2 linked regions of the Homo sapiens genome follow. The protein of the gene in region 1 binds, or shares a complex with, the protein of each later gene. Each region holds a gene or a part of one and is shown in the gene's direction. Other genes may lie near its edges. The genes, in order: WDR48 and USP46.

What was found.
Region 2: the proteins of WDR48 (region 1) and USP46 are in contact, whole or in part, in a crystal structure (PDB 6JLQ), measured with the Homo sapiens proteins. Residues at the interface, in NP_065890.1 of Homo sapiens: Arg50, Trp77, Asp118, Tyr119, Lys121, Leu137, Arg139, Ser170, Tyr172, Thr188, Asp211, Asn212, Lys214, Ser230, Gly254, Trp256, Arg272, Ile364, Leu424 (codon at 1,240), Lys425 (codon at 1,243), Gly521; in NP_073743.2 of Homo sapiens: Arg181, Leu183, Asn184, Cys185, Glu186, Thr187, Cys222, Ser223, Glu224, Lys226, Cys232, Cys233, Ser234, Lys235, Gln236, Glu237, Gln239.

What each region holds. Positions count from the first base shown.
Region 1 is NC_000003.12:39,083,012-39,086,921, forward strand, and holds part of WDR48 (WD repeat-containing protein 48), read left to right. Parts: intron 1-1,143; coding exon 1,144-1,251; intron 1,252-1,633; coding exon 1,634-1,730; intron 1,731-2,503; coding exon 2,504-2,599; intron 2,600-3,289; exon of another isoform or gene 3,290-3,373; intron 3,374-3,910. UniProt on the Homo sapiens protein: Regulator of deubiquitinating complexes, which acts as a strong activator of USP1, USP12 and USP46. Enhances the USP1-mediated deubiquitination of FANCD2; USP1 being almost inactive by itself.
Region 2 is NC_000004.12:52,657,122-52,661,031, reverse strand, and holds the start of USP46 (ubiquitin carboxyl-terminal hydrolase 46), read left to right. Parts: upstream 1-1,730; 5' UTR 1,731-1,881; coding exon 1,882-1,917; intron 1,918-2,750; exon of another isoform or gene 2,751-2,858; intron 2,859-3,910. UniProt on the Homo sapiens protein: Deubiquitinating enzyme that plays a role in behavior, possibly by regulating GABA action. May act by mediating the deubiquitination of GAD1/GAD67.

The sequences.
Region 1 (3,910 bases):
GAGCCAGTGGCAGCTCCAGAACTAATTGAGTGTTTCAAGAAGAAGCTTGCGGTTAGTGGCATTAACCTGCTGTGAGTTGATTTAAGATGTGACTAACATCATGGATTTAAATAAAGAGGGTGGCCTCTGGGTAGAGTCTTAAGGGCAAAAGCCAGGTAGAGTGAGTTGAGTAGTGATTTGAAGGTGAAGAAACAGAAAATTTGACTGGATAATCTTTGAAGAAATTTGATTGGAGGGGTAGGCAGGAAGCGGCGGAAACTAGAGAAGATGTAGGAGTCAGAGGGCCAAAGGAAGCTTTTGATTTTGTTTGGTTTTGTTTGGATATTTGGGTATTTTTCAGATGTAAGAAATTTGAGCATATTTCATTGCTCCTGGGAAGAAGCCAGTAGAGACATTCATGGGTAGATGACAATACAAGGTCATCCCAAGAAGCAAGAGGTGAGGGGGACCGGAGCACAGTCAGAAGGGACACCGTTTTCCTTGCACCAGGGAGAATGATAGAGAAAGTTAAGGGGATTCTGTCAAGGCTTCTCTTTGTTTTGAGAAAAAGGAATCAGAGTCATGTGCTGAGGATAATGGGGAAGGTGGCAAGGTCAGAGGTAGAAGAGAGATTTAGTTGAGATGGACTGCAAGACAGTGACCCCAGGGCTCAAGTCTCCAGTAAATGAGGGAGAGTGGCAGGTTGCTAGATGGCAGTGAAGGAAAGGTGTACCGTTTACTGTTGCTAAATGACATAGGCCTCAGAGAAATAAGTTTTTACATGGGAGATGGTAGAGTAATGGTCTCCATGGAGCATCAAGGAACAATGGGATGTGGGAAAATAAGCAGTCCCCCTTTGAGAAGATGGCCGACAACTGGGACCCTCGAAAGAGCCACGTTGCTGTTAAGATGAGGTGGTATATTATATCAATATCAGCACAATTAAATACAGTTTCTTCCCAAATACTATTTTGTGCTTTTTTAATTTAAATTTTTTATAGCAGCAGATTGTTATTTTAAAAAAGGACCACATTCTTTTTGAAATGTATTTTAGACTGTTTCACTTAGACACATGTGAAAATATGTAAAATTTTGAATAGCAAAGTCAGAATCAAGTGAATTCACCACTTAATATTGATCATTATACTTTCTTTTGATGTATAGGCATGTAAAGTTGAAGATCTGGGCAAAGTGGATTTTGAAGATGAAATTAAGAAAAGATTTAAAATGGTGTATGTGCCAAATTGGTTCTCAGTAGACTTAAAAACAGGGGTAAGTTAGCAATTGATACTTGTATGATTTGGGATAATTGAAGATTTTCATTATAGCTTATAATTATTATTAGTTACAGAGTCCTGTGTTTTTAGGTGTGAAAAAAAAAATTTGTGTTAAAACTTAAAATGCAAAATGGAATAAAAAAGAAAAAAACAAAATTAAAAATATATTAAAAAAGAAAAAAATTTAAAAGTTACAAAATGCCTTTGGTATCCCAGGAAACTAAATTGTGTTGTTGCATTGAATCACACAAAACACATTTTGGTTCCTGAATTTATGACTTAGCACTTTAGTCAAATAGTACAAATAAATGAAGGTTTAGAGACTTGTTTGGAGAATATATTCAAATGGGATGCCACTAAGTTTTTTCTTTTGATAGATGTTAACTATTACTTTGGATGAAAGTGATTGTTTTGCTGCCTGGGTTTCTGCAAAAGATGCTGGTTTCAGCAGCCCTGATGGGTCAGATCCAAAATGTGAGTTTAAGTGTCCTTCATTTTTTTCCTCCCTTCTAAAGAGAAGATGAATATGAGCTGTTTTTTGCTAAGTACTTATCTTTGTAAAAGTTCTCTATATTTTGTTGACTATGTCCTAAAAATGTGGTATGTACAAATACCTAATGTATACAAATCATTTTAGTAATTTCATATGGAAATAGCCGTTTAAAGAATCTGATTCTCGGCCAGGCGCAGTGGCTCACACCTGTAATCTCAGCACTTTGGGAGGCCGAGGCGGGTGGATCACGAGGTCAGGGGATCGAGACCATCCTGGCTAACACGGTGAAACCCCGTCTCTACTAAAAATACAAAAAATTAGCCGGGCGTGGTGGCGGGTGCCTGTAGTCCCAGCTATTCGGGAGGCTGAGGCAGGAGAATGGCGTGAACCCGGGAGGCGGAGCTTGCAGTGAGCCGAGATTGCACCACTGCGCTCCAGCCTGGGTGACAGAGCGAGACTCTATCTCAAAAAAAAAAAAAATCTGATTCTCATGTTTGTTTTTAAATAATAGCTGTATCTGAACAACCAAGTAGAATATGTCTTTGCTCCATAGCATCATTGCTTTAAACATTCTAAGATAAAATTTTAGCAGAATTGGCAAAATGACTAAAGTCTTTATTTTAGACATCATTCGCATTGGGTTAAGAATGTAACATCAGAATATGTACAAACTTACAATTTTTATTCTATTTTTAGGTTAAAGCCAAGTAACTCGCTTTTCCATTTTATCTCTTTTTAATTAACTTTTTTGCAGTGAATTTAGGAGGACTTTTACTCCAAGCACTCCTGGAATATTGGCCTAGAACACATGTGAATCCAATGGATGAAGAGGAAAATGAAGTAAACCATGGTTAGTTTTTATATTCAGATAGTTGCATAAAAAGTTAGAGGTACTTACTTAAAAGGTACTTACTAAAAGGTACTTACTTAAACCGTTAGCTAAAATATTTGTGGTGTACTCAGTTTATTGTCCTCTCTTCCATATCTCAAAGTAGGAACATCCATCCAGTCTTAACTGAGACTGAGATTCCAAAAGAGCAGACCACCTTATGATATGGCTTTTAGTGAGACTGCTCAAGATAAATAAAATACTCTATATTCAGATGACTTTTGTCTTAAAATGAGGCACCTTAACAGACTTATTTCCAAAATATTCTTCAAGGTACCTCTGATCTTTTGGATTAACCTCCAAAGCTAGGTAGTTAGCTGCATCAGAAAGCCAGGTTTGTCATTGCATAGTCACTCTTCATGTTGGGCTGAAATGTTGGTATTTCCTAGTCTCATGGCCTACCTGATTTTGACTCTGTTTCAAAAAAAAATTCAAATTCCAACTCAGAAGTGACAGGGCATATGCTCAAGCATGTGTAAAGAATTAATGTCACTGAGGACATCTGAAACGTGTGTGTGCCATAGGCAGTGGCAGTAACGTTCCCTGAGCAGCAGAGGAGAACATGTTTTGAATATATGCATTTGGCTCAGTTTGATCAAAGGAAGGGGAAACAAGAACTTAGAATTTCACATCCTCATGTGTAACCTACAGCTGGTTGAGGAATCATTGAGTCCCATCGACTGAGGCTTACTCTGCTGAAGATTCTCTGCTGGCCACCAGGAGTGAGCAACAATGGCGAGTACCTCCTGCCAGGGACTTTGTTCTGGCTGTCAGATTCACCCATAATGATATGTGGAATTTAAATCTCTCACATGAGGATGACATGCTTCCTTGAAAACCAGTCTTCTGATGTTCCTGTCAGAGAGAGGGTGCTGTTGCCCCACCCATGGTGGCTTTTCTTTTACATCACCTGACACACTTTGATCCCTGTCAGAATTGTACAGTGGACTTTGAGCTAAAGAAACTGATGGAAAAATCTTTCCACAGAGGGTCAAGAAAGCTAGGTTCTGGGGTGGGCTCTGCTGCTTAACAGCTATGTTGCTGTGGGCAAATCATTTCCAGTTAGATGGGATACTCTCAGCCACCCAAATAAGCAATAAGGATTAAGTTATCAAAACAGTGGTATAGTCATGCACCCTTTGGATCTAGGCTTTGGGTGAGGAGTATAAGGAAGACATCACCAGAAATCACGTCATCCTTAACATCAGACTGCATGGGAAAGGTAGGGCAGGGCATGGCTACTTCCTCATCCAGAGCTCAGACCACAGCACC
Region 2 (3,910 bases), on another chromosome or scaffold:
TAGTTCAGTTGTTTCCTGTCTTCTCTCTTCTCTTCCTCTCCCAGAGTGCTCAGCCCAGGTTACCACACCAACTTAATCTGTAACATTTCGGTAAGTCATCTGGGCAGGATCCTTGATCCTCTAAGCCTTATGTGACTGATCTGCAAAAAAGGAGATAATAGCATGTACCAGCTGATAGTTATGGTGGCGATTAAAGGAGATCAGGAATGTAAACATTGGGTGCAGTGGTTCACGCCTGTTGTCCCAGCGCTTTGGGAGGCCAAGGTGGGATGATTGCTGGAGCCCAGGAGTTTGGGATGACTCGGGGCTGCCCAGCCTCAGGCTGGGCAACATAGCGAGAACCTGTCTCTTAAAAAACAGAGAGAGAGAGAAGAAAATCAGTCATGACTTACAATGGAAGAAATTATCATCAGGATGTATTTGGAAATAATATTTAGGTTGAAAGACTTAAGCAGGAATATTATTTCTCATGTCCACTGGAAAACACAGTGACATGACTCCCAAAACCTTCAGTCAACAAGTCTGTCTTACTGTTTCCTCCCCAGATTCTAGGGATATTAGCAATCAACGGCTCTCAAATCTTTACTCTTGGTTAGATAAAAGCTATCTTCAACTAATTTTTCTTCTGATTCAATTTGTCATTAAATACACTGATCTAAGAATTTATCACGCATCTCACTTGTACAATTTCTCCTTTGAAAGCATCGAATTGCAACCTTGTATGTGTAACTGTTCCACACATTCAGAAACGGGCCCCTTCAATTCGCGTGGACCTATCTGCTAAGTGGTGCACAGACTCGCGCTCTGAGCCCGCAGCCACGACCTTTAATGCGGGAAATGTGCATGATCCCATACAGCGCCCATCTCAACAACTAGAGGCTGGGTGCACCCGAGAGGGGTATGCCTGCCTTGAAGATATGGAAAAGTTTTGTTTTCGTTCTTTCCACTCCTTGGACAGTCCCTAGTGCTTGCGCGGAACCGGGACGTCTCCTTTGGACCCGCTAATGTCACAAGCCGCCCGAGCGCGCCGCTGCTGGCCTCCGCCCAGACCCGGATTCCTCCCCCTTCCCGGCGCCCTTTCTCGGGCGCCCGGCCCGCAGCTGGCGAGGGCTCTCTGACCGCTCCGGTGTCCTCGCCCCATTTTACTTCTTGGGTCCCCGCCGGTGCCATCTGGTTGGAACCCTCGGGAGGAACTAAAAGTTGGACGTCGCCACCCCTACCCCTCGCCAAAAAATAAACACCGGGGGCTGCCGAGGCCCGCCAGGAGGAAGGCGACGAGGAAAAAGCGAGGACGGAAGGCGGCCCCGGGTTCGCCCCGGCCTGGGCCGCCCGCTTCCCCACCCCGCGCACCGTACCGTCCCCGGCTCCCTGGCTCCCCGACGGCGAGGAGGGCCGCCGCTTCCGCGTCGGGGTCGGCCGGGGGACCTGCGAGGTGCGGCTGCCGCAGCGGCGCGCCCCGGAGCCTGGCCCGGCATTCCAGTCCGAATAGAAAGAGGCAGGGAATCAAATGGAAAAGCAGGAGGCCAGGCCTGGGCGGGCGAGCTGGGAAGGAGGCGGCGCGGCGGGGCCCGGGAACCCAGCCTGGAGCGCTCTGAGCGGCCGGCTCGGACTCACGCGGCGCGCCCGGGCCGCCCCTCCTCCCCGCGCCGCCGGCCGCGGCCCAGGCTCCCTCGCTCCGCCACTCCCCGCCCCTCCGCGCTCCCTCCCCGCCCTCCCCGCGCCGCCGCCTCCTCCTCCCGGCCTCCCTCTCCCAGCCAAACTGAAAGCCGGACCCCAGGCCGCCGCGCTGCCGCCCGGCCTCCCCGCCAGCGCGCCACCATGGGCAGTCCCGGTTTCCCCTTGTAAAGATGGCGGTGAGGGATCGCTGCAACCTTTAGACTAATGACTGTCCGAAACATCGCCTCCATCTGTAATATGGTGAGTGGCCGAGCCGCCTCGGGGTCGCGCCCGACTCGCGGCGAGGCAAAGAAAGGGAAGCCCGAGCTGCACACACGCCCGGTGGCTGGGGCGGCGGGGGCGGCGGGGTCCGCGCCGCCAGAAGTTCCCGGCCCCCGAGCTGGGCGCGCGGCCGCAGCCACCTCAGCGGCCGGGGAGGGTCCCCGAGCCCCCGGCGCCCGTCTCAGCCCCGGGACCTCGGAACCCGCCCGGCGATCCCGGGGCCGCGCTGCTGCGCCCCCCGCCCTCGGGTTGCGGTGGAAGCGGCTTGAGGGAAGGGAAGCGACCGAACCTGAACGTCCCCGGGGAGGGGGTGGGGGATAAGCTGGAGGTGGGGGGCACCCATCCTCTTCTTGCGGTCAAGACAGCCTTATTGGACGTCCAGACTGCCCTCATCTCATTTTGAGTTCAGTCCTTCCGAGGTGTTTAAAATTCACTTTGCAATAGCAATTGTGTATCTGGAGAAATCGGAAATGTAATAAAGCTGTAAAAAAAGTGCAAAATTGTGGCTGGAGAAGTGAACTTCAACCTGGTTTGAAAAAGCACCGTAATTTGCTCCGCATGCCTCAGTTTCCCCATCTGTGAAAAAGGGACAAGGCTCTGTGGCGGTAATATTTGCAGGCCCTAAGGGTGGGGCGGGCTGTGGGCTTGGAGGAGGTCTCCAGGGTTATCCTGCCTGATCCGCTGTAGACCTAGGGGAGGCTGGCGGGCATGGATACAGCCAGGGACATCACTGGGTTCTGATGCAGTCCGAGCCCATGATGCGGTGGTCACTTTAATTTGGGTTTCCCCCATTGCTTTCCCTTTTTCTGTAGGAAGAACCTCCAGCCCTTGGGTCCCCAGGCTGGACCCTGCTGGCGCCTCCACTTGTCAGAGCCTTTGGGGAGCTCAGATTGGAGTAAGGCATTGCTGTCCCTTGCAGGGTGAGATGATGTGTGTTTTGCCTACATTCTTTAGACTGCACCCCGCCTCCCCTCTAGCCCCCTCCCAAGCGGGTCCCCGGAGGCAACACGTGCTCTTACAGTGCCAGTTTGAGGAAAACCTCCCTTGAAGCTAGTAATACTGGCCCCTAAAGGGAATCCAAGGAAGCTTGATGGAGAAGCCCTGGTGTAAGGTGATCTGGCTGCCCTTCCCCCATCACATAGCTTTTTAAATCTTCTGTCCCACATTCTGTTGCAAGATCAACACATGGCAAAGGAGCATTAAGAAGCCTTGTGTTAGCTCAGGGGTGGAATTGAGACCCGCTGGCTTCAGCTTTCAGCACAATGGGACGTGCCACTGTCACGGCCAGCAAAGCAAATGCTGGGGCCTCCCAGAGTGATAGCTGCACAGGTACTGGTTGGTGCCGGGCGAGTTCCATACGGGGAGTGGATCCTAGAGCCTTTCTGTTTTCTCTTTTTTTCCTTTCTCTGCGAGGAGTCAGATTTCCTCTTATTCCTGTGGAGGGGCTGCTTGTGAAGAGGTGATGCCTTCTCAGTTTCTCTCCTACGACCAGTTCCTGAGGGAACTGTGAATCGGGAGCAGCTTGAATACTCTTTTATGTCTGTTGGTGTGGCCGCAGGCCTAAGGATACTACAGGGTAGTGAGGCTCCGACCCAGCCCTTGGTGGTGTTCTTGTCCTGCTTGTGTGTGGTTACACCTCTCTGTGTAGAAGCAGGCTGGAAACTTGAGAGCTAGCATGCCCCTAGAGGAAGCCAGCCCCCAACCTCCCCCCACGCGTCCCCCCACCCACCCTCAGTGCTGCGGGGGCTTTCTGGCACACCTGGGCTGAATGTCACAACGTGTTTCAGTGAAACTCAGTCAGGGAGACAGGGTGTGGGGAGGACCTGAGAGGAGCAGGCCAATACTGCCCTGAGAGTTGACATCTCAGGTGGAGACCTAAAAAGGTACCAAATTTAGGACCATCACCCAGATGAAGTGAGGAACCAGTAATTCATTAAGTAAGGAGTCTGATGTTGTATTTAGACGCCATGTC